4 linked regions of the Homo sapiens genome follow. The protein of the gene in region 2 purifies or fractionates together with the protein of the main gene of each other region. This does not show direct contact. Each region holds a gene or a part of one and is shown on either strand. Other genes may lie near its edges. The genes, in order: MED9, MED13, CDK19 and MED12L.

Evidence for each region.
Region 1: the proteins of MED13 (region 2) and MED9 purify together in Homo sapiens (affinity purification with mass spectrometry; 6 studies listed by BioGRID and IntAct, with this or other methods). This does not show direct contact.
Region 3: the proteins of MED13 (region 2) and CDK19 purify together in Homo sapiens (affinity purification with mass spectrometry; 8 studies listed by BioGRID and IntAct, with this or other methods). This does not show direct contact.
Region 4: the proteins of MED13 (region 2) and MED12L purify together in Homo sapiens (affinity purification with mass spectrometry, with the first as the bait; 2 studies listed by BioGRID). This does not show direct contact.

The regions. Positions count from the first base shown.
Region 1 is NC_000017.11:17,486,996-17,493,742, reverse strand, and holds the end of MED9 (mediator of RNA polymerase II transcription subunit 9), read right to left. Parts: intron 2,465-6,747; coding exon 2,248-2,464; 3' UTR 522-2,247; downstream 1-521.
Region 2 is NC_000017.11:61,964,275-61,971,299, forward strand, and holds part of MED13 (mediator of RNA polymerase II transcription subunit 13), read right to left. Parts: intron 3,985-7,025; coding exon 3,761-3,984; intron 2,378-3,760; coding exon 2,188-2,377; intron 1,195-2,187; coding exon 732-1,194; intron 1-731. UniProt on the Homo sapiens protein: Component of the Mediator complex, a coactivator involved in the regulated transcription of nearly all RNA polymerase II-dependent genes.
Region 3 is NC_000006.12:110,609,462-110,616,478, forward strand, and holds the end of CDK19 (cyclin-dependent kinase 19), read right to left. Parts: intron 5,206-7,017; coding exon 5,074-5,205; 3' UTR 517-5,073; downstream 1-516.
Region 4 is NC_000003.12:151,080,872-151,088,669, reverse strand, and holds the start of MED12L (mediator of RNA polymerase II transcription subunit 12-like protein), read right to left. Parts: upstream 3,007-7,798; 5' UTR 2,734-3,006; intron 2,016-2,733; exon of another isoform or gene 1,873-2,015; 5' UTR 1,744-1,872; coding exon 1,645-1,743; intron 1-1,644. UniProt on the Homo sapiens protein: May be a component of the Mediator complex, a coactivator involved in the regulated transcription of nearly all RNA polymerase II-dependent genes.

The sequences.
Region 1 (6,747 bases), about 44 Mb from region 2:
TGCCAAGCCTCTAATTCTTCACCCCGGGAAGAGAGAACACCCTCGGCATGGGCTCACTGTGGGGATTAAGTGTGATGTTTGAAAAGTACTTAGCATAAATGCCGGCCACCCAGTAATCCAAGTAATTGGTGGCTTTCAGAGGACGCTCAGCCCTGTGAGAGACACTCAAAATTGTCCTAGAAGGATTTCAACCCTGCTCTGGTGAGGGCGGCTCCCCACAGGACTGAACCTCCTCGAGTCACCAAAAGGCACCCCCCACCTCCCCCCTCCAAAAATAAAAGGCAACTAAGGACAGCCCAGGGATGACCCGCCAGGCAAACTGCCCTTGAGGCCAGCCGGGAGAGGAGTTCCTGTTCCACACTGGTTCAGCGGGTGTGTGTGCTGGGGCGGGTGTGTGTGCTGGGGCGGAGGGAGTGAGGAGCAGAGGTGTGGTTGTGTCTGAAGAGACTGAGAGAAACATTTTCCTCTCAACTATCTGAGAGCCATCCCACTATGAATTTCTCAGTACAAAAAGCATTATGTCCTGAGACAGCAGAGCATAAGTCCTTTTAATTATGTGTTTGAAAAATGTCACAAGTCAAAAAAGGAACACAAGGCAGGCTCCGGCTCCCTCCACCCCCGTGAGGAGCCCTTGTCCATTTCAGCCTTGCACTCAGAAAGACCCCGGGGGTCTTGTAGTTCCACGTGCTTCATGTTTCGTGGTATCTGTCAGAGCCTTAAAACAGGCCCACCCACTACTGTGAAATTTCAAGGAAATAACTGATTCAGTTAAATAACAGTCCCAAGGTAGACCTGGTCTCACAGGTGACCACCCGCTTAAATCCAGAGCCTTCTTTTCTGTCCAAAGCCACTGAAATTTGATCTCCTCCTTCACACATTCCCAGGTCCCCAATATGCCACCCACCTTCTGACAGGTGGCTACAGGTCTACACTAATGGAAGCTCTGCTAAAAACATCTCCACCCAACCCTCCTGCCAACGAGGTCAGCTGGCAGGCATCTGCTAAGCCCCTAAACTGGTCAGCGCAGGTTATGCGCCCATTCCGAGACCCAAACAATACTCCAGGACTTCGCACCTCCTCCTCGAGAGGCAACGGAGAGAACTGCTCTTACTTCAATCTGACAGTCAAGGGAGAGCACACAAATAAAACGTCCCATCTGGAAGAAATCAGGGAAGCTGGGGAAATGAGGCTGTTCATCAACTTTTAAGAGCTCAAACTTGGCTGTGTAACTTTCAGACCTAGCTTATGGTTGGGGACCACCTGAACTGGCCCCCAGGGTTGCCTCTCTCTCAACACAAGGTGCATACTGAACCCTTCTGCAGTGTAGTACACGTTGCTGCCGCAAGTGCAAAGGCCACGAGGGAAAGACCTTTTAACCAGAGCAAGGGGAATCTGAAATGCCAGAAGGGGGAAGGTCGGTTCGCCTGAAGACCTCTTCTGGCCTGTGTGGAAAGGACGGCCCCTTGTCAACCCTGGGGAAGCACTGCAGATGTGAAGCGGTTTGGCCACTCTTGGGCACTGACTGAGGGTGATGAACGAGGAAGGGAGCAAGAGCTGAAGGCGAGGAGAGCGCTAGGAGGCAGGGAACCTGGAGCCAGGGGCTGCCTGGCAGGGCTCTAGGCTGAAGCCCCCAAAGCGTAGTTCCCTTCACTGGCTCAAACATAAAAGGAACCAAACTGTTTGGGGAAAAAGGCCACCCTCTGGCCTTTCAAAACATTCTCTCACAATTCTATGCCATATGAGTGCAGGCTTAATTCGTCCAGTGAATTCTATGCAAATGTTTCAAGAAGCTGCTGTTAACAGGAACAATGTGTACCTGGTACACACTGATCCTATGGGGGTGGGAGGAGAGAGAGGGAAGGAAGCAAAGAGGAGCCGCCTCCCTTCCTACTGTGCTCTTCAGATCTGTCAGTGGGGCCGGGCGCAGCAGATGGCCCCCTCCCCAGAGGCAGGGGAGAGTCCTCCACCCCCTCTGCAGCCTCCAGGAGCATTCTGACTTCCACCAGCAGGCACTCCAGTTATTATGCATCTAGACATATGGATCTACACGAGGAACCCCCGGCGCAGCCAAGCTCTGCGCTGGCTCCCGCACAGGCGAAGCGCGCGCAGCAGCACAGGAGCCCCGCCCCTGCAGCTTGACGAGCTGAGCTGGGGTCCACAGGAACCACGCCCCAAGGAGCGTTTGGGGATGGTAGTGGGGAGACAGGCCATTGGCTTCCCCCTCTTTCTAAGGAAGTCAGCCTCACTCTACTCCTTGGGGATTTCGAACATGCAGAGGCTCTTGTACTTTTGCAGAAGCTCATTCTTGGTCCTGACTTGCTCCCGGAGGCTCTGCAGCTGCTGCTGCTGCTGTTCGGGGCTCAGGTGGATGCCGGGCATGGTGCTGATGAGCTTGCGCATCTCCTGGAACTTGCTTTTGAGGGCGTTCAGGTCCTGGTGGACCTCCGGGCTGTCCTTGTCCATGCTGTGGGGGAAGAACAGCTGTTAGCATTCACAGCTTGATACACGTCTTGGCGTTCCTGCCCTGCACCCCCTAGAGCTGGCTGTCATTCCTGCCATAGCTTTTAGAACACTTCGTTTTATGTGTCTATCCCCTGACTAGGCTGTCCACCCCCAGAGGGCAGGGACGGGTTCTTTTTTAGGCAGCTGGCACAGAGCTCCCAGGCCTAGCACACTTGCAGATCACACACAGACACTCTTGATCTTCTGTCAAGTCAACTGTCACTCTGAGGTCAAGGACCATGTCTGCCTGGTCACAGGTGTCTCCCTACCCCCGGCCCAGTGTGTAGGTCACTACAGGCACTCAAGAAATGTCCGTGGAAAGAATGAATGCTTAGCAAATAAGCTCATGAACATGTTGGTTCAATGAACAAACCAATACCAATATCAGGTGACAAATGCCAAACAAAACTTGTTGAAATACGACATTTTGTCTAACTGGAGCCATTTCTAGGCCAATCAGGAGGCTTTATCAGTTAGCAAGAGCTAATTTTAGCTGAGGTTTTGATGCTGGCTTGAACCTGTTAACATAAAGACTAATTTCCACAGAGCTGTTCATAAATGTTAGATTAGTTAAAATGGAACTGATTTAAATGTCTCAGCAGACACAGGCTCTCTTCTACCATGGTCATGGACAGTCCTTGTCTTTGAGTCAAGTTCACTTTCAAGGCAGACGGTTCGCTCCATCTCACAGCTATTAGCTGCACAGAGGTCCTACTCAATGAAAAACGAGGCAAGAACAATCTCACTTAAGATCAAAAAAACAGCCTGGCAGTTGCTCCTGTACATTTTTTGTTTGTTTGAGACAGGGTCTCACTCTGTCGCCCAGACTGGAGGGCAGTGGTGCGATCTCGGCTCACTGCAACCTCCACCTCCCGGGTCCCGGTTCAAGCAATTCTCCTGCCTCAGCCTCCTGAGTAGCTGGGATTACAGGCGCATGCCAACACGCCCGGATAATTTTTGTATTTTTAGTAGAGACAGGGTTTCACCATGTTGGCCAGGCTGGTCTTGAACTCCTGACCTCAGGTGATCCACCTGCCTCGGCCTCCCAAAGTGCTGGGATTACAGGCATGAGCCACCACACTCAGCTTCCTATACGTTTTTTAAAAGTTAGTAAGTGGATGAGCTTTTGAAAACAAGTGGTTGAGACCAAAACTAAAAGGCAATTCAGTAAGCTGTTCTGAAAGTAAGCCATTGAGGCATAAGAGGGAAAAACTGTCAATGATCATTAATTTTTTCAAATAAATGTTCATCCGTAGTGGGAAATTTCAACCCAGATGGTGCTAATTCATGTTTACTATTCATCATTTCTCTGCTTACGCAGGCAGAATATCCATCTTTCCTGGCGATCCATCAGTTACGTCTCACACCTTGCAAATCAGATGGCCACCATGGCCAGCTCAGTATTTACCAACAGCTCTAAACTCAGAGGGAGGGTATGGAGAATCAATCACTTCTTCCAGGAAATGAGAGGCCAGGAAATGATGCCCTCAACTGAGAGACACCATTAACAGTATACCTTATCGCAGATTCTAGAGAGGATGAACTGGTATTCATGAGAACTAAAAATCCTTTGGAAGGAAGCAAATAGGGAACGTCTTTTATTTTAATTCTTTGAAGTCTCAGCTCTGATCCACAAATGTGGACAGAAACCATCTGCACTTCTGAAATCCTTCTACTCGGATGGCATGCGTGTTAACATACCGTTACGAATTTAAGTCCCAAGGAAGTTTTAAAATTAAAATATAGTTTTTAAAAAAACCGACTCACATGAGTCTCAAAGGACATGGTAAAACAAACAAAAAAGTACTTAAAATAGAAATGTGGATGACAGATAATCCCATTCTTGAAGCAAACATAACCTGGCCCAAAAGAAAATTTAGTTCTGAAAGTTGAAAGTGGGTCATGTTTAAGATGCTCATCTCTGAAAACCCCCAAATAGCAAGGGTTGCGTGTTCTTTGGTGAACTTTCAGGAAAGGAGACAGTCTTCAGATAATAAAAAAGGAGCTGTAAGACAAGCCGCCTGGAGGGCAGCTGAGCCAAAAGGGGCCATGCAGCCCACAGGGAGGCCCCTCTGCAAGCCCAACTGCCCTAGTTGGTGGAGGTAAATAGCATGGAACTCCTGGAGTGAAGAGAACATGCTATTCAGAAGTGGGCATCTGCTAAGCCAGGATGACTGTGAAATATTCAAGCCAAAAGAAAAGGGACAGGACCAAATACCGAGTGAATAAAAGCAGAAAGCTCTAAGTGGGCCTACCTTTGTGTTCAAGGTTAGTCATCGGCCAACTATAGAAGGAATGAAAAAAGCCACTAGGTCAAGGAGGATGAACATCGTACAAACAAGGCAAGGTCAGAGCACTTTGGTCCCAACTACTGTGGTACTGTGGTTTCTTTTTTTCTTTTTTTTTTTTGAGACAGAGTTTTACTCGTTGCCCAGGCTGGAGTGCAATGGTGCGATCTTGGCTCACTGCAACCTCCGCCTCCCGGGTTCAAGTGATTCTCCTGCCTCGGCCTCCTGAGTAGCTGGGATTACAGGCATGCGCTACCACGCCCGGCTAATTTTGTATTTTTAGTAGAGATGGTGTTTCTCCACGTTGGCCAGGCTGGTCTCGAACTCCCGACCTCAGGTGATCCGCCCACCTCAACCTCCCAAAGTGCTGGGATTACAGGCGTAAGCCACCGCACCCAGCCCCCTACTATGGTTTTTTTAAAGAGTGGACAAAAATACTACCGCCAGGGGTGATCCTCTGAGCATCCTTCCCACGTCTGACAGACAGTTGTATCCGTGTCACCAGACTCAAAGGCAAACATCACAGGGTTTTAGGCAGGTGTCTGAGAATCATGCCCTGATTTTCTTTGTTCTTCTTTTTAGCATGGATGCTTTAGTACAGATGCAAACTGGCCAATAACTCTGCTAGAACCACTGACACAGACTTCCTCCCAAATCTGACAGTCATTTCTTTTGACCTTTTGGTGGCATCTGACTCAGTTTCCCATTTCTTCTTCCTCACAACTTCCATGCACTGTGCCTCACACTCCACTCTGTCCCAGCTGCCTTGCCCTCAGACCAGCCCTTACCAGTCCATTCCTCTGCCCACAGGCTCTCCTCGCACGGTACTAACTCCAGTGGCTTTCATTTTTCTAAGATCACTTTTTTAAAAAATGACAGTAATAGGTACTTGAGGGAAAAAATTCAAAAATGAGACAACCAAGGCTTAGAAAAGGGAAATCTCATTAACCCCTTGTTCCAGAGATAACCTCTGCTAACATGTGGTGTCCACTGTTTCAGATGGCTTTGAAATGTACAACAGCATACAAAACACACAAACTTTTCTTATTTGTTCTGACAGAAATGTGACCATCCATAGTTCTCATTCTTGCTTTTTCTACTTAACAAGGCACCTCAGATGTCCTTCCATGTTAACACATATACAATTAGACAGCGAAATTACCCTGGCTATTCATGGGTGGTTGTACTGTACTAGAATGACAGTGAACATCTTGTACTTATACCCTTATGTACTTGTGTGTCCGGAATTGGTGGGTTCTTGGTCTCACTGACTTCAAGAATGAGGCCACGGACCCTCACAGTGAGTGTTACAGCTCTTAAGGTGGCGCGTCTGAAGTCTGTCCCTTCTGATGTTCAGATGTGTTCGGAGTTTCTTCCTTCTGGTGGGTTCGTGGTCTCGCTGGCTCAGGAGGGAAGCTGCAGACCTTCGCGGTGTGCGTTACAGCTCTTAAGGCAGCATGTCTGGAGTTGTTCGTTCCTCCCGGTGGGCTCGTGGTCTCGCTGGGCTCAGGAGTGAAGCTGCAGATCTTCGCGGTGAGTGTTACAGCTCATAAAAGCAGCGTGGACCCAAAGAGTGAGCAGTGGCAAGATTTATTGCAAAGAGTGAAAGAACAAAGCTTCCACAGCATGGAAGGGGACCCAAGCGGGTTGCCACTGCTGGCTCCGGCAGCCTGCTTTTATTCTCTTATCTGGCCCCACCCACATCCTGCTGATTGGTAGAGCCGAGTGGCCTGTTTTGTCACGGCGCTGATTGGTGCATTTACAATCCCTGAGCTAGATACAAAGGTTCTCCCCGTCCCCATCAGATTAGTTAGATACAGTTTGGACACACAGGTTCTCCAAGGCCCCACCAGAGCAGCTAGATACAGAGTGTCGATTGGTGCATTCACAAACCTTGAGCTAAACACAGGGTGCTGATTGGTGTGTTTACAAACCTTGAGCTAGATACAGAGTGCCG
Region 2 (7,025 bases):
AAAATATTCAACACTAGGCCGGGTGCGATAGCTCATGCCTGTAATCCCAGCACTTTGGGAGGCTGAGGCAGGCAGATTGCTGAGTCCAAGAGTTCCAGACCAGCCAGGGCAACAGGGTGAAACCACATCTCTACAAAAAAGTAGCTGGGCATGGTGGTGCATGCCTGTAAGTCCCAGCTACTCAGGAGGCTGAGGTGGGAGGATCACCTGAGCCCAGGAGGTCGAGGCTGCAGTGAGCCGTGATCACGCCACTATACTCCAGCCTGGGTGACAGAGTGAGACCTTGTCTTAAAAAAAGATACAAACTAAAATTTCAAGACTAAGATAAAAAAGCACTTTATGCTCATTCAAAACGTCTTATTTAGAAAAAAAGCAGCATGGCTGGGCGTGGTGGCTCACGTCTGTAATCCCAGCACTTTGGGAAGCCATGGTGGGTGGATCACCTGAGGTCAGAAGTTTGAGACCAGCCTGGTCAACATGGCAAAACCCTGTCTCTACTAAAAATACAAAAATTAGCCAGGCGTGGTGGCACATGCCTGTAATTCCAGCTACTAGGGAGGCTGAGGGAGGAGAATCACTTGAACTCGGGAGGCAGAGGTTGCAGTGAGTGCAGATCCCACCACTGCAGTACAGCCTGCGCAAAAGAGTGAGACTGTGTCTCAAGAAAAAAAAAGAAAGAAGCAGCATCATAGTTTTTATATTTCTGCAAAAATCAGTATTTTTAAAGGTACCTTTCAGACACATCAGGATGCGGCTGAGTGGGAAGTGAAGATGATTCTCCAGAAATCCCAGCTGTCTGTAGAGCTGATGTCTGTTGCCCTCCTAGCTGACCACTCTGAACTGTATTTGCTTGTGTAGACATGGATCCTGCAGCATTACTGTTCATACTGCCAAAGGGTGGAAACGAAGGTAGTTTATTTGATGATACTCCACTATTCAAGTTGGAGGATGATGAAGATGAAGTTGAAGCTGTGGTCAAAGTTGAATTAGCTGTGGCAACTGAAGTAGATATGGCAACACCTGAAGTCACTGTCATAGTGCTGCTCGCTGCAGATGCTAAGGTGGCAGATGGAGTATTAGCATTTCCAGTATTTGTCATCTGAGGTGGAGTAATCAAAGACTGACTTGTAGGGGCAACTAAATTTGGCTGGGAAAGTAGAGAGCTGTCCAATGGCAGGGAAGCAAGATAAGGACCTAAAGAATAAAAACAGGTACGAAATTTAATTCTTTATTTCACTGACTGGTTTTTTTAAATTCTACTGTGTAAACAGAATCATAATCCAGTTGATGTTTTCTTGGTAATTATAGCCCCGAAATTGCTTGCTAATGGTGTGACCTACACTTGCTTTCTATTTTCCCCTAGAGACTGAAGAAACATATTTAAAATGGAATTGAAAAAGCCAGAATTTTCACTCAAAATTAAAGAAATGATTACTATGAAAGTGTAACAAAATTCTATTTTCTAAGTATAATTAAATGTAAAAAAGGTATCTAGCAATATTCATCAAACTATTCAAAGGGTTTCTAAATCACAAATCAAATAAATATTGACTACATTGACAGCTAATTAAAATATAAAATGGTATAATGTTATGGGGTTCAAATTATAGGAATGTCTAATGAGATTCAATATTTTGGTTCTGCATCTCTTTGGATTAAGTCTAAAGGAAGTCCACTGATCTTTATTTTCAAGAGTATTTATAAGCAATACAGTTAGGCACGGGTAGAATGAAAGAAAAAAAGTATGTAACAAGCAAGTCTTAAACAGCTGTCGTTTTCTTAGCTACAACAAAGAACTATTTCTTGGTTTGGTAGAGATTAACTATAAATTATTTTATCTCTAAACTGTAACAAATGAAGAATCTTCAAGTTATTAAAACATCAGACCCTACAGAGGCAACAGAAAATTTATTTATAACCCATAATTTCTTCCTACCTGATGGGATCCCTCATTAGGGATCAGCAAACTTGTTCTGTAAAGGGTCAGATAATAAATATTTTTGTCTTTGCAGCCACACAGTCTCTATGAAAACTACTCAGCTCCAATGTTGTAGCACAAAAGCAGCCAGAGAAAATACATAAATGAGGATGGCTGTGTTCCAATAAAATTTTATCTACAAAAACAGCTGGTGGAGCAGGCCACATTTTGCTAACACCAGCCTTATACAATAAATACAAATTCAATACCTAGGTCATATCTGCAGACTTGTGCATAAAGCTTGAGTTTAGAAAATGCTTCATTGTTACCGTCAGCTGCCTGAGAAAACCATTCTGCTACCAACTTTTCTGATAGTTTCTTTGATGCAGTAGATCCAACTCTCATGATCCCATCTGTTAACAGTCGAGAAACAGGTCTATGTTGACCTAATCGACAGGACTACAAATATACATACAGAAAGCAGAATTAGTAAATTTATTATTGTATTTAGATACACATTATAAAACCAACCATGAAAGCTACTTAAAATAAGCTTAACCATTTGCAATTAACAGTTATGATAAAAATATCAAGGGTGTTTTTAGAAGTAGGCCAAAAAAATAAACATATCAAGGGTGAAATGGTGCCATAGGTCTTTTTCATTTTTACATTAGAAATTCATTAATTTTTTTTCAAAATTAAAATATCTCTAATGAAAAAACACCTAGATAACAATAGTACTAGAACCATTTTGTTTGAATAAAAGCTTGCAGAATGCAGACATAAGTGAGCATAAAAATGCAGTCATTTTAGGTATACATTAACACCAATTCATGAATTATGAATACAAATATCCCTAAATCAAAGCAAAATAAAAATTGTTATACAAATATATTTATACACCTTCTCCCTCTAGTTCTGTGAGTCACTGATTTTTGTTATTAGAAGCCCAATGTTAAATAAATTTAAAACATTGGATTAAGCAAACTTAGAAGAGTTCTTTACTGTAAGAATTTCAAAGCCTTTAAAAACCTAATATGAATTGTAAATCTCTAAAAGGTAATATAATATACAATGTTTCCCCAAGCCTATTTAACTATGGAACTTTTTCTCTGAGAGGATTTTACCGGACTGATATTCCAAATAACACCCTTTGGGAAATGTTTATTTATTAAAAACACACTACAAATACCTTGTAATTATGTGGAAAATTTTAAAAGGAAGCTAAACTAACATACACTAACATTCAGATTGTATAAGGAATCAAAATTTAAAGACTAAATTTCGAAGCCTTTGTGGAAAAAGGAGGGAATAATAAAGTAAGACTTTATGTCCCATAACACTTATAATTTACAATTATTGCGCCTGGTGATGGATATGTGAGAATTATAACTTAAAAGAAGAGGCAAGAATTTCAGACCTGAAATGGACCTTAGTGATATCTAGCATAGATTTATTTTACATATGAGGAAAGTGAGGCCTAGTGTCACTACCTGAAATCCTAGAGAATAAAGACTAGAATTTTTGTAAATGTAACTTTTTTCCTGGCTATTTAACATTGTTACCCTTTGTTTTAGAAAAAGCCACATTAAAAGGGATATATATCTATATGCCCTCAATGTTTCTTCCTCCTATAGGGGGATAGCCACTCTGACCCACGGCATACACATCTAACAGACTGGGTCAAACTCAGCAAAGAATGTAACTGGCTAGTATGAGAAATAAACATCTAATCTGACATCATCACTGTGTCCCAATCAACTGAACTGCCCAGTATGCTGTATATACAACAATACAAATCGTAAGGTAGTTTTAAAATGTCATCTCTTTTTAAACACCTACCTCATATATTGCAGTAAGATCTCTAAAAAAGCTTTTTGCTCCATTTAACAAGGCTTCATTTTCTGGACACAGTACAACATAGGCTATATCTCTTTGAGATCCATAGGGTTCCAGCATAAGTCTCTCCCAATAAGGAAGAGCAAATGGAGAAAGCACCAGATAATCATAATCATAACCCAACAAAAATGTGGGGATTGGCAGTGGTTCTGGGGATTCATCAGTTCCTAAATAAGAAAGATGTATTTTAAGAAAACACTTAAAAACAAGACATGTCTCCTTTTTATTTATTTATTTATTTATTTATTTTTTGAGACAGAGTCTCGCTCTGTCGCCCAGACTGGAGTGCAGTGGCGCCATCTCGGCTCACTGCAAGCTCCGCCTCCCGCGTTCACGCCATTTTCCTGCCTCAGCCTCCTGAGTAGCTGGGACTGCAAGTGCCTGCCACCACGCCTGGCTAATTTTTTGTATTTTTTAGTAGAGACGAGGTTTCACCGTGTTAGCCAGGATGGTCTCGAGCTCCTGACCTTGTGTCCGCCCACCTCGGCCTCCCAAAGTGCTGGGATTACAGGTGTGAGCCACCATGCCCGGCCTCCTTTTTATTTAAATGTCAAAAGTTAATGAAGTCATTATTAGTGAAAATATTTTATTAGAGACAAAAATACTTAATGCCAGTGGTCAAGACTTTTCAACATTAAGGAATTTCCTAAACAAGTCTTTTTATTTACTTATTTTTTTGAGACAGGGTCTTGCTCTATTGCCCAGATTAGACTGCAGTGGAACAATCACGCCTTACTGCAGCATTAACCTGCTGGGCTCAAGCAATCCTCTGTCCTCAGCTTCCCGAATAGCTGGGACTACAGGTGTGTGCCACTATGCTTAGCTAATTTTTAAAGTTTTTGTAGAGATGGGATCTTGCTGTGTTGCCCAGGGTGGACTCAAACTCCTGAGCTCAAGTGATCCTCCTTCCTCAGCCTCCCAAAGTGCTGGGATTACGTGCAGGAGCCACCACGTCTGGTCTGCATTTAAATTTTTGGCATGGGGCTGGGTGCAGTGGCTCACACCTGTAATTTCAGCACTTTGGGAGGCCGAGGTGGGCAGATCACCTGAGGCTGGGAGTTTAAGACCAGCCTGACCAACATGGAGAAAGCCTGTCTCTATTAAAAATACAAAATTAGCCGGGCATGGTGGTGCATGCCTGTAATCCCAGCTACTCAGGAGGCTGAAGCAGAATTGCTTGAACCCAGGGGGTGGAGGTTGCGGTGAGCTGAGATTGCACCAGTGCACGTCAGCCCAGGCAAAAAGAGCAAAACTCCATCTCAAAAACAAACAAACAAAAAATTGGCATAAAAATACACTGTAGGCCAGGTGCTGTGGCTCATGCCTGTAATCTCAGCACCTTGGGAGACTGAGGTGGGAGGATTACTTGAGCCCAGGAGTTTGAGGCCTAGGCAACATAGTGAGACACCATCCTTATTTATACATTTAAAAATAATATAATTTAAAAAATAGAAAAAAGAAAAAACCTTACTAAGAGCGCAGATCTCATGTTAAGTGTTCTTTCTTTTAGTTTTTTTTTGTTTTGTTTTTGAGACAGTCTTGCTCTGTTGCCTAGGCTGCAGTGCAGTGGTGCGATCTCCACTCACTCCAACCTCCACCTCCTGGGTTCAAGCAATTATCTCACCTCAGCCTCCTGAGTAGCTGGGATTATAGGCACACATCACCATACCGGGATAATTTTTGAATTTTTGGTAGAGATGGGGTTTCACCATGTTGGCCAGGCTGGTTTCAAACTCCTGACCTCAAGTGATCTGCCCACCTCGGCCTCCCAAAGTGCTGGGATTACAGGCGTGAGTCGTCATGCCTGGTGAGTGTTCTTACCATAATAAAAAAATTTTTAAAAGAAAATGACCAACAACCTAATAGAAAAATGGGTTAAGAACATGGAGATTACAAAACAAAACTATCTCTAACACATAAAAAGATGCTCTTTCTCATTAAAAAAGCAATTTAAAATTAATAATAGCAAACAATGATAATTCTATGTGCTAGGTACTGTTCAAAGCTCTTTGCATGTACTAACTCATTTAATCCTCACAAAAAACATAAGGCAGAAACTATTATTAACTTCATTTTAGAGATGAGAAAACATAAATGAGGAAGTTAAGCAATTTCTCTAGCATTTCACAAGAAGTAGCAGAGTAGGAATTTAAACCCAAGAAATCTATCCCCACAGTCTGTACTATTTAATCTCTCAAACTATAATGGGAAATAACCATTTTTCATCCACTGAATCAGCATCCTACTAGGCAAGGCTTTGGGAAAACAGGCACTTTAACTGGTGGGAATTCAAACTGATATTACAGGGGCTGGGCATGGTGGCTCACGCCTGTAATCTCAGCACTTTGGGAGGCCTAGGTAGGTGGATCACTTGAGGCAAGCAGTTCAAGAACAGACTGGGCAAGATGGCAAAATCCCATCTCTAGTAAAAATACAAAAATTAGCCAGGTGTGGTTAATGCATGCCTGTAATCCCAGCTACTCGTGAGGCTGATGCATGAGAACTGCTTGAACCTGGGAGGCAGAGGGTGCAGTGAGCTAAGATCATGCCACTGCACTCCAGTCTGGGCAAGAGAGTGAGACTGTCTCAAAAAAAAAAAAAAAAAAAAAAAAGGCATTACAGATAGTTATTTAGGTTTTTTTTTTTTTTTTCTTGAAATACACGTCTGGGTGCTTATAATCCTAGCCCTTTGGGAGGGTGAGTTGGGCAGATCACTAGGGCCCAGGAGTTGGAGACCAGCCTGGGCAACATGGCAAAACCTCATCTCTACAAAATATACAAAAATTAGCTGGGTGTGGTGGTGAGCACCTGTAGTACCAGCTACTTGGCAGGCTGAGGTGAGAGGATCACTTGGACCCAGGAGGTTATGGCTGCAGTGAGCCATGATTGTGCCACTGTACTCCAGCCAGGGTGACAGAACAAATCTCAAAAATAATAATAATAAATAAAATAAAAATACACCCATGCTTTAAAGCCAGGGATCTGTGCATTACTGAAAAGTAGCTGTAATGATAATGGTGGTAACAATTTGTATGTTCATAAACACTGCACTGGTAAAATATATTATCATATGTAAGGAACAATGGAATACATATAGCCATAAAAAAAGATAATCTCTATATGTGCAGATAGAAATGATCTCCAAAATCAGTTAAGGTACAGAAATAAATAAATAAATATCTACTTTTTTTTTTTTTTTTTTGAGATG
Region 3 (7,017 bases), on a different chromosome or scaffold from region 2:
GGAGTAACAACCATAGAAGATTCATCAAACAAATTATAGAAGGAGCAGCCAGGTACCACAGAGTGCTCTTATAAAACAAGAAACTCCCAATCCAACCCCATCCACAAAATGCTTATTAGTCTTTTCTAATTCTCATTTATATTTTTTTAAAAAGATGTTTCTCCTAAAGATGTATAAAAACCTGCAATTTTACTTATGAGGTATTTGCAGGCCTTGCTTGCTTTGCAGTATTATGACATCATAGCATCCTGAACAAAATAACATATTAGAACTCACAGAAAGACTTCGTATCTCTGCAGGAAAAGTGTAATTATAAAAGCTTCTAGGCACACAGATAAAATTTTAACGCTAGATGGGGTCTCACTATGTTGTCCAGTCAGGTCTCCAACTCCTGGCCTCAAGCAATTCTTCTACCTCAGCCTCCCGAAGTGCTGAGATTACAGGCATGAGCCACTGTGTCCAGCCACTAAGCCTTATTATAAGATTTTTTTTATATTTAAAAAATCCACACAGAAGCAAAGTCAATTAAATTTTATTTCAACCAAGAATATAAAATAAATGCAATGTAATTTATTTTAGTTTTAACAGTCATTTCAAGAAGGAAGTCAGGTCAACTCAAAAGCAGGAAACCCTCGCTCCAAAGCAGTAGCTCGTCCTGCACTCCATGGAGCAGGCCTCGCTGGGGTGCAGCGGCTCTGAGCACAAACCTCGCAGTGGAGCACGAAAAGCTACAGTCATCTCTATAACCATATAAAGGGGGATGCGTGCAGAAAATGACTGAAAAAAGAGACAAGAACAGGTACACTTCACAAATAGGAATTATAGGAATATACAAACTAGGCAGTTTAGAAAGGATATACTACATAACATATATAAAAAGTACTTTAAATTGTTGTTAAAAAGGACACCTTCAGTCCAGATTTTGTGTAATACTTTTAGTGTCTACACAGACAAATCTTTAAAAAAATTAAATAGTATTAATTTACTAAATATTTAGGAGATAACAGTGCATTAAGGGTTTTTTTTTTTATATAATACATACATATCACCCCTTTGCAGTGATAGCATAGAAGAGTAAGTATGGCCTTAGGTACAACACGTTTTTTAAAAACCCTAAAACAATGAACTTTGTTATATTTGTGACTATTTTTGAGGATTATGGGGACCTAAACTGCTATGTTTTATACAAAATATTACTTGTACTTGAATCCTTCAAGCCTCTGTTGGTCTAACTGCCATTTCACTGCCTTTCTCTACTCCCTAGGAAGACATCATCATAGAGTTTTGGATTTGTAATTTCCATAGAATTCTTCCTTCATTGTATAGTTTCTGCTGCATAAATTTACTCAAAAGCACATCAAGTTGCATGTCTTATTTTCCAACTATTTTTTTCTTTTCTTTTACCTTTAGCAGAGAAAACAGCATCATTTTAGAGGCATAGAGAACAAGTAGCAGTTGCTTCACCAGGAATGAGGCAGCACACATAGGTAAATGTCATCCCTTTCCATTCTTAAGAGTCCATTATGTTCGTAAGAGCAAAAGAGTAGTGCAGAAGGCCAAAATTCTAAGTACTAAAGTTTCAAAACCACAGAGATATAAAAATATACATAATCCTTGGTCTTTGTATGTCACTGCATGATCTACTTCATCACAAGGATTGTTTCAGCCTCATAGTATCAGCCCTGCTGCCAAAGCTACCTTACCTTGAGCTCATCTGTCCTGCAACACTTGAATTCCTTTCACAAACACACACCTCCCCAGAAAGCTAACTCTGAAACTGGTTTGTAACACGAAGAGCAGAAAGCCTTCACTTGGATTCATTCCTTCCTGTCAATAACCCCTCCTAGTTTGGGTGTTCCCATAGGCTGAGGGATGCCCCTCCTGTACCCTTGGGGGACATAACAGTATCTAATAAATTTCAAAGAGAAATGCCATCATTTGGGGACCACAAAGGTAAAGTTTGCCCTCAAAAAGCTTCAAAGGTCTCCTTAGAGGTCCCACGGTTTGAGGGCCCTTACGTGTGTTAAAAAGGCTTTGTTCCCAACTGGGTGCGGTGGCTCACACCTATAATCCCAGCACTTCGGGAGGCCGAGACAGGCGGATGACCTGAGGTGAGGAATTCAAGACCAGCCTGACCAATAGGGTGAAACCCCATCTCTACTAAAAATACAAAAATTAGCCAGACGTGGTGGTGCGTGCCCGTAGTCCCAGCTACTCGGGAGGCTGAGGCAGGAGAATCACTTGAACCTGGAAGGTGGAGGTTGGAGTGAGCCAAGATCGTGCCACTGCACTCCAGCTTGGGTGACAGAGCAACACTCCGTCTCAAAAAAAAAAAAGGCTTTGTTCCCCTTTAAAGGAAAGAAAATGATCCAAAATTATTACTAAGGGTAAAGGGAATCAGTGGGTAGCACGAACCCTGAGGCAAGGAAAGAGGAGAAAAGAGCCAGTACCAGTGCAGGGATAGGAACTCAGTCATGTGTGGAATGGAGATTTCTGGCTATGTCCTGGAGGATATTGTATACTGGGAGCAACTGACGAAATCCCCTTACAGTTTATATTTCAGTTCTGCCAGCAAAAGTCATTATATACAAGGAAAACAGGGTAGTTCTGTGAATGTATAAGCGTAAGAACTATTTAACAATGCTGCTTATAAAGTATTAAGGGGCATAGTATTTTGGTTTACATATCTATCTGGGTTTGTCTTCTTTTATTAAAGGTAACCTCCTTGAGAGCAAGAACAGACCTTCTATTTTCCTTGCAATTTCCTACAACCACTTAGGAGAGTATGTTCTGCCTACAAGGACCACCCAGTTGTTGTTAAAAGGCTGCTGTGAACATTTCAAAGATACGTCAATGCCTTTTGTGATATTGAATCACTGGCTTTCTCTAAGGTAGACTGACATAGAAACCCTTCCATAATATTATTTACAGAACAGATTTGGGGATAGTAACTACCCAAGTGGGTTTAGAAGTAAACAAAAAGACCTTCATATTATAAGACAGTTTCACTTGTAAGTCAATCACATGGCACAGACATCCCAGGAGGGCTTACTGTCACAGATCACAAGCTCCTTAAGGACAAGAAGTATGCCCTGTCCTCTGTGTTCTCTACCCAGCAGGGCACCAGGCACATGGTGAGGGTGCAATAAGCATCTGATGACCAACAGCTCTGGACAGTGAGGCTTTAGGGCACAGGATAAAACTGCATATAGGCAGCTACATTATGCAGAGGGCTGCTAATTTCTTATTTTAAAAAATGGAAGGGGTAAAACAGCAGGAGACTATCAGAAACTCCTTCCAATGGAGCACGTAACCTGCTTCATCTTCAGTCTTGATGAGTGTCACTATGCAGACTTCATTATTAGTGAGCATTATTATGCTGAGATCAGTAAGGTCCTGGCTGGCTACAGTATCACATCAATAGTGCAAAATGTATACTGGCTTCTGTCTAATCTTATTTTACTTGTGTATGGACCCACAGTATCATAACCAGGTAGATAAGTTCAGAAAGAATAGTTTTTAAAAATGCATGTAATTTGCATATACAATAATCAGCTATTTCTTCTAGCTCAAGAAAACATTTAAAACAAGGCTGGTGCTGCTAGTAGCATTCAGAAGAACACAAATTTCTTGCCCCTTACATTACAATGGGAGCTCTAAGTTTTTACATTTCCTTTTGACTCTGGGGAGTGAGGGGCTCCTTAAAGCAGCTAAGAAAGAACTCAGCCACTAATTCATAGATAATGGAAATGCAAATATTCACTTTGTCTAGTATAGTCTTATACTATCCGCCCATAGTTTTTAGGCACAATTATTAAGTTTTCTCCTAGGGGCAAAAGAAATCATTCAGTGCAATGAAAAAGATTCTTGATAGAATTAAGTTTCAGTAACAACAGCAAAATTATGCATACATAATACATACTTTAAACATGAATAAAACCTAAATTTTTAACATGCTTTAAAAATAGTCACTCTATATCTAATACAAATACGAATGGAGAACACTGCTCTTTATTTTAAAAGCAGATTAATTTTCAGGCTTCTACTTGAGTAACCTTGATTATGCAAGAAAGTTACTCACGCAGACCCAGATGTGAAGAAACCAATGGTTCTTTAGAGAAGCCGACTTTATGTACAATACACACTAAAAACTTTTCCTTCAAAGGGAAGTAACACGTCTTTTGATCAAAATTACTCCTTACAGAAATCCTAGTGCAGTTGTTACTCTCTTCAGCGTTTTGGTGTGGGCCATCGAGACTGTACAAAGCTCTTGAAACCCTTTTTAAGGTAGACTTAGCTACATGAAGGTTAAAATTGTAATTCTTAATTACTGAATGCTATTCAGAATAAGATGATGCTGGGAACTCAGTTCCATATGAATGATTCTATAAAAATTACCACATACTTCAGTTCTTCGTGGCATAAAGCACATAACTGCAAAGATCTAGGCAGTTTTTGGTTGTAGGTTCCCTCTGTCCCACCGCTTGTCTTTTTATTAGACCTTCCCTGAAACTAGATAAATACGAACGTAATAGTAAAGTACTTTGGGACAGTAACAGTTTCTGTTTAAGACTTCCATGAGCAGAACAGTTATTGTCTGTGAAAACGTAGTGCTTTAAAAGGTGCATTTTTACCTGTGTTGCTAAATCAGTTCATGAAGTATAAAACTATACACCACTGGAATCCTGTTTCTAAAACATTAAAATCCTATTAAAAGAGCTTTGAAAAGATAAACCATAGTGATTGCTACAGCATGAGAAAGGTGCACCAGGAAATCCTTCAAAGAAATGCTGAAGGTTACAGAAGTGCTGGGATTAGATCAGACGCTTTATCAGAGAAGTCACAATGGAACACATGCAGGGAAGGGGTGCTGGGGAAACTTCACAAGAATCTTCTTTAAGTCAATAAAGAAGAGCTATCAGTCCTGCACAATGCTCAGTATATAAGGTTTTCCTCCCATGTGTATGAGTTTTAAATGGCATCATAGTTTGCATTTTTTTGGTTCTTTTCAATGCAGACATATTGCTGGAGCCTGTGCTCTGGGCTGGGCTGGCCTGGCCCAACGGGAGCTGGTCAGTACCGGTGGGCCTGGTGAGATGGGTGGTACTGTGAGCTCTGCTGAGACGAGGAAGAGTAGCCAAGTGTGCTCTGGGACTGAGAGGATCCCTGAACGCTGCTTTGGTAATTCAGGCGAGAACTGGAGTGCTAGGAGAAGGAAACAGGAAAAGGGAATTACTGATGGAGGAAGAGGATGACTCAAGATGCTCATCACAGTAGGATAGAGATATAAGCCGTTTTCATTAGGTTCCTGGTTCAGACACACATAGCTGACAGCTAACTTAAGTTGTTAACACATTTTGCTTATTTGAAATCACAGCCTGCCACCACTGTAACCACACATTCTGGCAGGCATGAAATTTGGCTAGATTTTTGTGGGAGATAAGCTACACTGGAAAGAAAGGAAAAGGGGAAATTTCAGCGGACCCATTTCTCTTTATTCCAATTCTGGGGTGTAACAATCCTTTGCATAACTGAGACGTGCAAACAAGAATAATCAATTTGGCATACTGAAATCAATAGTATTCATAATGTATACTGACATGCTATTATTTTTCCCATTATAAATAACAAAGCTGTGATTAAGAAATCATTATTTTAGAGCAAAGGGTTTTCAGAGGTAGAAGCTAGGGGTATCAGGAGTTCTACCTACGAGACAAAGTAAGGCAAGATTAGGTGGGGTGCGGCAGCAACATGTGGGTTTTATAAACTTCAGGTAACATTTAGAATAAAGCAATTTTCACATATGATTGTCTTCAAGAGAAGACAGAAAAATGCATTTCAATTCAATGTATTTTTATTACATTAAATGAAACCTTCATCTTCATAGTACCTAACGCAAATACAAAAAAAATGTGTAAAAGGAAAAATCATCTATAGAATAAGAACAGTATGTAAGAGACAAGCATAGCTGGAAGTAGTATCTTTGGCTATATTCAGAAGGCTGGTTTTTCTTGTAAGCAAAGTGGGAAAGAATATATGTAATAAAGCTATTACTTTTGAAACTTCCTTAGCAAAAATTAAACAGCAAGAAAATTATGACAGTGAAAGAGATCTGATTTAACCCACTCCATCTTGCCTTTAACCTCCAAACTGTTCTTGGTCATTGCTGGGCATGGGCCAAGCTAACTTTGGGAGAAATTTAGTTTATAGTTTAAACGACAATAGTCCATCCCAAAACTAAACTGCCTTTATAAAACTACTAAAAGGCCACAAGTTTAGGATTATGAGAGAGGCCTGAATTCTGCTAAGATGTAGGTGCAGTTAAACAATTACCAGTCATTGTTCTGGAGGTCAATTGGCTACTCCCCAATTACTCCTGTAAATAACATCACTATTGTCAACCTTTTCAGAAGGCTTTTCAGACTTTTGCATTTCGGATGACTCCACCCAGACTGAGACTCATGACTCAACCAGTCCTGTGGCCCCCACCCAGAAGTGGACTCAGCACAGGAAGACCATTTTTCACACCCCTTTGATTGCATCCCCAACCAAGCAGCAGTAGTCATTCCCTAGACCCCTGCCCACCAAAGTATCTTTGAAAAATCCTAGCCTCCAAATTTTGAGGAGGCTGATAATAAAACTCTGATGTCCCATTTAGCTGGCCCTATGTGTATTAAACTTTCTCTATTGAAATTCCTGTCTTGATAAATTGGCTCTATCTGGGCAGCGAGCAAGAAGAACCTGTCGGGCGGTTACACTTTGAGTTAAACATGTAAATTATCTTGAGGTGGCACTGGGGGTTTAGGAAAGAACAGATCAGCAAGGTCCTCCTGCTCAGTGCTCAAAGGCTGCCAAACGACTTGGAATATCTGGTCCAAGATAACAGGGCACTAAGGTAGTTTTGGTTAAAAACAACTCAGTTGTGGCTAGGCACAGTGGCTCACACCTGTAATCCCAGCACTTTGGGAGGCTGAGCTGGGCAGATCACCTGAGGTCAGGAGTTCAAGACCAGTCTGG
Region 4 (7,798 bases), on a different chromosome or scaffold from region 2:
GAAATCCAAAATTACTCTTTCCAGAATCAGAGGCCCCAGTCGTGAAATGAGCATTGGCCTGAAGAACAAATGCTAAATAAGCCCACACAGCACCCCAAGCCATCATGCCATCAATTATGCTGCCCTCTGGAAAGACAGAGTAAGACATTAATTACAAGATGATAAAGTTCAACCAACAAAATATCCCTGTCCCTATCAAAACTTTAAGAATTTCCTCCCAATAATTTTTAAGCTATTAACTGTACACTTGATCCTCAGCTTCTCTATTATTTCCAGTCCTTAACCATTAACTTCATTCTAAGTTGGGGTAGCAGGGTGGGGTAACGGGTAGGAAAAAAAATCTGGGAAATCTTCTCAAACCTCTACCATCCTGTAAAGCTGGTGCTGGAAACCACCTGTAAAACCTTCCCAGCTTTCATCTGCGTGACTCCACTGATGCTAGAGCATATTTAGTGTGCTAAACCTCTAAAAGGAGTTGCTGTTCCTTACTTCTCAGACACTTTATAAGCAAGACAGTTTAGCCAGAACAAGCACTTACTCTCCTAATGAAAGATACACTTATCAAAAGGAAAGTCTTAAGGACCCCTCCTTGCCTGGTTTACAAGGCCCTTTCTGTGCTATCAGTGGGCCCACAAACTTTTAATGGAGGGTTTTTAGATTCTCAGAAAGGTAAGTTTTGAAATATGGTCAGTTCGTGTTTAGCTGAACAGAAGATGGGTGGACTGCAGCTGGCAAACTCAGAAAGCACTGCTGGGTAGCAGGTGATCAAAAAAAAAACAAAAAAAAGGCAAGTCCCTGGGCAAATGGTGTAGCCAAAGGTGATCATTATAACTAGAGACTTGTTACATAATTACTTGTTAACTCCTGACAAACAGATACACAGCTACAAAATGCCATGGTTACCCTAGCCATTGAAGCTAATGTAGCTGGTGCAAGAGTCAAGGTGTCTCCAATTAATCTCATTCAAAGAAATAAGCAATCCTGGGAACTATTCCCTCCCAAGGTAACTCGCCTGCTTTTACGTATACAAAACAGCCTCTAGCAATTAAGCCCATTGCCTCTAGAGACGAAAATCAGTGTTTCTCCTTAATTTTAATTTTTAAAGGGCAGAAGGGTTACAGAGGTATATTCAGAGAGCTAAATATTTATCACTTCGATAAAAACGACTTCCATTCCAAACTGGAAAATTTGAAAAGCTTCCCCCTCACCTTCGTCCCTGGCCAGCAAAAGCAAAACGCAAGACCTCAGTGTAGGATGCACTGCATTCCAACATTTTTCAAAAAGTTTACGACGATTTACCGAAGCGGCAAGAAGAAAAATAAAGCAGGCAGAAACGGGTGAGAGCGAGCAAGGTTTCGGCAGGGAAGAAGCCCGAGAAGCGCCCGGCGGCGCCGTGCAAGGCCCGGCAACGGGAAAGCGACCGGCACATGGAAAGCGAGCGCCCCAGTGGAGCGCGGGGACTGACAGCCGCTCGGTCTCCGCCGCCGGGGGGTCGCCCAGCACCCCCAGCCTGGCCCCCGCCTCTAATCCCCCTCCCCGACCTCTTCCACCGCAGCGCCGGCGATGCCCGCTGGGCCAACTTGGCCCCGGGTCAGTGCTGCAGAGCGCGGCCCCGGTTGCCGGGGAGGCCGCCGGCGCCCTTACCTCCTTCTGCTTGGGGTCCTGTGGGTAGACGTCGGGCGGCCCGAGCCGGGGGCGCTTCAGCGGTCTCTGCTCATAGCTGAGAAGCCCGAAGGCGGCCATGATCTCTCATGTTAACCGGCGAAATGAATGAGAGTTGGAGCTGGAGCAGCCGCCTCTGAGCACCAGGGAGCAGCACTTTGCAGACAGACTCCCTCTCTCCCCCTCCTCGCTCGCTCGCTCGCTGTGGCGCTGCAGGCAGGAGGAATAAAGCAGGTTGGATGCTGCCGCTGCCCGGCAGCAGACACGCACTGATGGGGACAGCCTTCGGCGGGTACTCGGCTGCGCTCGAGCCCCGGGACGCACCGCTCCGGTGGCGGCGGCGGAGGGACTAGAGGTCGGCCAGGGTCCTCCGCGGCGCCTGCCTCCTCTGCTCCCCCCTACCTTGTCTCCAGGGGGAGGAGCAGCTGATGGGAACGTGTGACTTTTTTCACCAATGGACCCAAACCCACCCCAGCTGGGCGCAGGATGGGGGTGGGGGTGGGGCACTGGAAAAAAAAAAAAAAAAACTTTTCTTGGCGCCTAGGCTGGTGGCTGAAGTGCTCGCCCAAGGCGAGGGTGGCCCTCCCCTCCCGGGAAGAAGCTGTGGAGCGGACCGCCCCCGCCTCTCTTCCCCGGCAGGGACCCTTCCCCCGCCGCCACGCGCCCCGCAGACCCCGCCACCTGGACACGGACCGGGCCAGTGCAGGCAGAGGCAGGTCTGGAGGGGGCGCGAGACGCAGGGATGCGGCCGGTGGGAAGCGGCCGGTGCCTCCTAGACGCCCGCCAGGTTCCAGTGGCGCATCCGCAGCTACGGTCCCCTCGGCGGCTCCGGGCAGGCGCCGAGGCGCGCTGCTGGCGGTCGCGGCGGCTGGAGGGGGCCGTGCTCACGGTGGCGTGGGGCCGACTTAACCCTTTACAGTCCCTCCAGGGGCTGGGGAAGGGGGTGAGGAGCGATGGCTGTGAGCGCCGACGGGGGCAGCCAGCCCGCAGGCGTCTCGGGCTCCTCCAGCCCGCCGCCTCCCCACGGCCCCAGCTCCTCTTCCCTTCCGCCCCCAACCCCCAACACTTTACCTGTTGGTCCGCGGCTAGCGGGCTGGGGCTGGCGGCGGCGGGGTCACTCCGGCCGCCGCAGCCTCCATCATTCGGGTTGGGATGGGGGACTTGGATTTGATTTTATTTGTGCGGTATCTGCCTCGCCCGGACGAGCTCCGGGAACGCCGCGAAGTTTGCCACTGTCTGGGGGCGGCGAGCGACGCCGGCTCGCCGCCGGCGTTCTCGCCCCCACGGCCCGGGAGCGCGAGCTTCCGAGTTGGCGGACGGCGGCGCGGCGTCCGCACTGAGCATGCCCAGCTCGGCGGCCGGACCGCGGAGGAGTTGGCTGAGAGCGCGGTGAGCGCGCTCCAATCCGCCTCTCCGGGTTTTCGCAGCCGCAGAGCGCGCAGCCCGCGGGCCCCGGCGCCGAGGCTGGCCCTGGGGTGAACCTGGGCGAGGGAGGGAGCGCCCTCTGGAGCCCTGCTCCAAGCCCCCCGCTGCACCCTCCGCCTCGACCTCCCCAGAGGTCGCGGTCCCCGTGGCCTGGGCCGAAAACCTCACCTGCGCCGGGAGCGTGGAAGGGGCGGGGGGGGTGATCCTCCAGGGCAGACCTTGGTCATCCAACCCGCCCTCGCTCCTCGCTTCGGGGCGCGGGCACCAAGATGCTGGGCCACCTGGCGCGAGCTCTGCGAGACCGGAGCCGCGGAGGCGGGCTCGGCCTGTCCTGAGGGACCCCGCGGGAGGCGTGCCCGGGAGAATGCGCCCGCACTTGGCCAAGAATGATGGCTGCCATTTATGGAGCCTTCGCTACGTGCCAGGATCTTGATAGTCAGAATCTCTGGTCCTTACAACCTTCCACGGTCTTACTGTACCCTTTTTATGGATGGAGAAATTGAGCCAGCTCAGAGAGGACCACTCACTTGCCGAAAGCCACGAAACGAGTCGGAATTTGAACCCACGACTGATTCTAAGTTTCTGACCTGTTTTCCCTGACTTGGACTTGGAGGGACTGGGTTCCTAACCTGTCCTTGCCTGATGGACTCACGTTCTCCACGGCTTGAGGCATTCTCGGCCTTCCCTCTCTGTAAGGTGGTAAAGGCAGATTCTAACCGGAAGCCTTTGATACATAGTAGGTGCTCTGGAAATGCTGGTTGAATCTGAACATCAACTTTGATGTTCGTTGACATTTAAGCAAAGGGGGAAGAAGGAGATAAATAAAGTGAAGGTAATGTGGTAGAGGCTAGTTCCTCACTCCTGATCCTGACCTGTGAGCACCTCCAAACCCAGTTTGAGGCTGAGTCAGGTGTTTAGCTTTTGGCTTCCTTAATCTGAACAATTACTTCTAGAGAGCATTTACCTAACTTCACTGGAGGGCATTTCCTGACCACCTTCCCCATCTTGCCCCAGGGTCTTCTCTTCCACTAATATCCTGGGATTAATTTCATGGCTGGACTTGCCCTTGTGATACAGGCATCTATCAAATGTAGCTCCCTTGTTTGAAAGAAAGGACAGTTTTTTGTTGTTGTTGTTTTCTTTGTTTGGTTGGTTGGTTGTTTTTTGAGACAGAGCCTCGCTCTGTCGCCCAGGCTGGAGTGCAGTGGCGAGATCTCGGCTCACTGCAAGCTCCGCCTCCTGGGTTCACGCCATTCTCCTGCCTCAGCCTCCCGCGTAGCTGGGGCTACAGGCGCCCGCCACCACGCCCGGCTAATTTTTTTTGTATTTCTTTTTTTTAGTAGAGACGGGGTTTCACAGTGTTAGCTAGGATGGTCTCGATCTCCTGACCTCGCAATCCGCCCACCTCGGCCTCCCAAAGTGCTGGGATTACAGGCGTGAGCCACCGCGCCCGGCCGAAAGGGTTTTTTTTATTATCTAACTTTATTAGGGAAATTATTAAACATACAAAAAGCTGAAGAAATCATATAAGGAGCCCTCAAATATTCATCTCTCAGCTATAAAAATTAAAGTTACTATTTTTGTTTCATCTTTCTCCCCCATTCCCAACTCACTGACATACACTAGTAAGGACAGTTTTACTCATTGTTGCAACTCAGAAACACTGTATGGGACCTGACACATGGTGAGCATTCAAAAATGTTGGCTTATGGAATGGATGATAGGTAGGCGATGTGTGGATGGACTGATGATTGCATCATTAGTGGTACTTTGGGAATAACAGCCTGCGCTGCTACTGAATCAAACACCCCTAGTTTGGGGGAGAAATGTAATCTCAGTTCTTCCCTTGGGATGCCTAAGCAAGCGCCTCCAACTGAAACACTTTGAAGCACTTAAAATCTTATCTGCCCATAAGAATTTTATCTTAAAATCAAAATGTGTCAGTAGTGTGCCCCTGGTGTTTGGGAAGAAGGGAAAATAATAGCCCTCTCCCTGTTGTTGTCCCTTCTTAACTCCCTCTCCTGAAACAGTCTGGCATGAATTCCTTGACCCTCTCAACACAAAATAAATAAATATTGAAAACTTTAATATGCTTAGAAGCTTCCCCTAGGAATCATTATTTTACTGCATGGATTTCCCATGGGCATTTGGCTCCTTACCCTGGGAAATCTTTGTAATCTACCCCCTACCTAGCAATTCAGCTTTTTCTCCTTAACCTCTTGCCCTAGTTAGCTTCCTTTCCTAATATGGAATTCCCAGGCTCTTCATCTTCAAATACTCACCTCTACAGTCCTCAGAGTACGGATTCCTGTACAAAGCCCCTTCAAATTCCCCTGGCAAAAGGTGATCTTTTGGCTTTTTAGTGCCCTTAGCACTTAATTTTTATTATCTTAACACTTATTTATTGGCATGCATTTGAATGTGTCACACAGAATAGTCTTGTTGCCTCATTCTCACCTTTTCCTCCTGGTCCCCTTCTTCCATTCCAGGTCTTTAAGCAGACTAAGATCAGCTCATCATGATGGGCTTAACCTGTAACCCACTGTGTTCTATACAGTGCTTGAATTTCCCACGTGGTGCTGGTTAATATAGCAGGCAAACATTCTCGTTGAATAATGTGGGTTCTAGCTGATACTGTTCCTAAGGGGTATTTTATCTTTACCTAGCTAATGATTCCCTGGGACCAGGAAAAATTTGCATGGAACAGAAATTAGAGAAGACCAGAGGCTCCCCAAATAGGTCCCAGCCTTGAACCTCAGCCTAGCAAGAAGGGATGAGTTCAGGTTCCTAAGGAAGTTTTGTATAGCTATCCAGGGAAATGGGGTTGAAATGTGGCTGGAGAAAGGTGAATGAATTACAAACCATTTTAAGCATATGGTGCTATATCCTCCAAGTATAAAGCTGAGTCTTCACTGCTGCTTTTGAGGGTTACCAGGTATTTAAAAGTTGACCCTTTTTCTTGGGTCACATTCAAGGGTTTCTCAAAGATTCCCTAACTGCTTATGTTCCCTCTGAAAGCCCTGATTTTCAGCATTCTGCAAGGAGTCCCTCACAGTTGGTATCCATTTGTGCTTTTGGGCAAATCCCTTCAATATAGCTCATGGCTGGCTTTCTCTCCCTACATTTGGTCTGCCAGAAATACACAAATGTCCTTTGCCTGTACATACGCTAGTGCAGGCATTTTCTAACCAGCCTTCTGTCCTTGCCCACCATGAACACACTCTGCAAGCCACAATTCTCCACCTTGAAAGTTCAATAGTCTAAATCGGAGACCAGTTCCTCAGGTTCATCCAAACTGCAGAGGATGAATGTCAAATGCTCAGGTCAGTGACCCTCTCAAAAAGTTTGAAGTGAGGAATAAAATTTCTTTGGTGAAAGGCAGAGACACAATCATTTGCAGAGAAGTTGTTTTTTGTTTTGTTTTGTTTGTTTGTTTTGTTTTGTTTGAGACAGAGTTTTGCTCTGTCACCCAGGCTGGAGTGCAGTGGCGCCATCTCTGCTCACTGCAATCTCCACCTCCCGGATTCAGGCGATTCTCCTGCCTCAGCCTCCTGAGTAGCTGGGATCACAGGTGCATGCCCCCACACCTGGCTAATTTTTGTATTTTTAGTAGAGATGGAGTTTTGCCATGTTGGCCAGGCTAGTCTCAAACTCCTGGCCTCAAGCGATCCACCCATCTTGGCCTCCCAAAGTGCTGGGATTACAGGCATGAGCCACCGCACCTGGCAGCAGAGCAGATTTTTTAAATGAGAGTGAAGAATGGCTAGGAGCAGAGGCAGGATGTTTACCCATCAGAAACTGTGGTCCTGGCTGGGCATGGTGGCTCACACATGTAATCCCAGCACTTTGGGAGGGCCCAGGTGGGTGGATCACTTGAGGCCAGGAGTTCAAGACCAGCCTGGCCAACATAGCAAACAAAAAATTAGCTGGGCGTGGTGGTGCATGCCTGTAGTCCCAGCTGCTTGGGAGGCTGAGGCAGGAGAATCGCTTGAATCTGGGAGGTGAAGGTTGCAGTGAGCGGCGGTCACCCCACTGCACTCCAGCCTGGGTAACAGAGACTCTGTCTCAAAAAAAGAAAAAAGAAAAGAGAAAAGAGAAGGGAAGGGAAGGGAAGGAAAAGGCAGGGGAAGTGGGAGGGGGAGGGGGAAGGGGGAGGGAAGGGGAGGGGAGGGGAGGGGAGGGGAGGGGAGGGGAGGGGAGGGGAGGGAAGGGAAGGGAAGGGAAGGGAAGGGAAGGGAAGGGAAGGGAAGGGAAGGGAAGGGAAGGGAAGGGAAGGGAAGGGAGTGGTCCTACTATTCCTATTCCTATTTTACAGATTAGTAGGTAGGGCTCCAGAGGTGAAGCTGCTGTTCCCAGGCCATTGAGTTAGCGACTAGCAAAGCCAGAATCAAACCTAGAATCTCTCTGACTCCCAAACTTATGCTTATTATTGTTGTCAATGTGTTACATGTATTAATTATCATTTACATAACACATAAAGGTGAGCCTTTGAAGACAGTTCTGGTATAAGAGAAGCAAAACTCCTGACAGCTCACTCTGGCATAGCAGCACAATTCCACTCAAGTGGAAAGAAACAATTCTCAGTGTAGTGCCTGTAGGTAAAGTAATTAAAGTTGCTAGCTTTCCTCATGGGATTGTTGCGTGTCCAGGTGTATATACTGTGTTTTGTTAACAGATTGTCTATAGGCAGTTTGCTTACTTTCCATTTTTC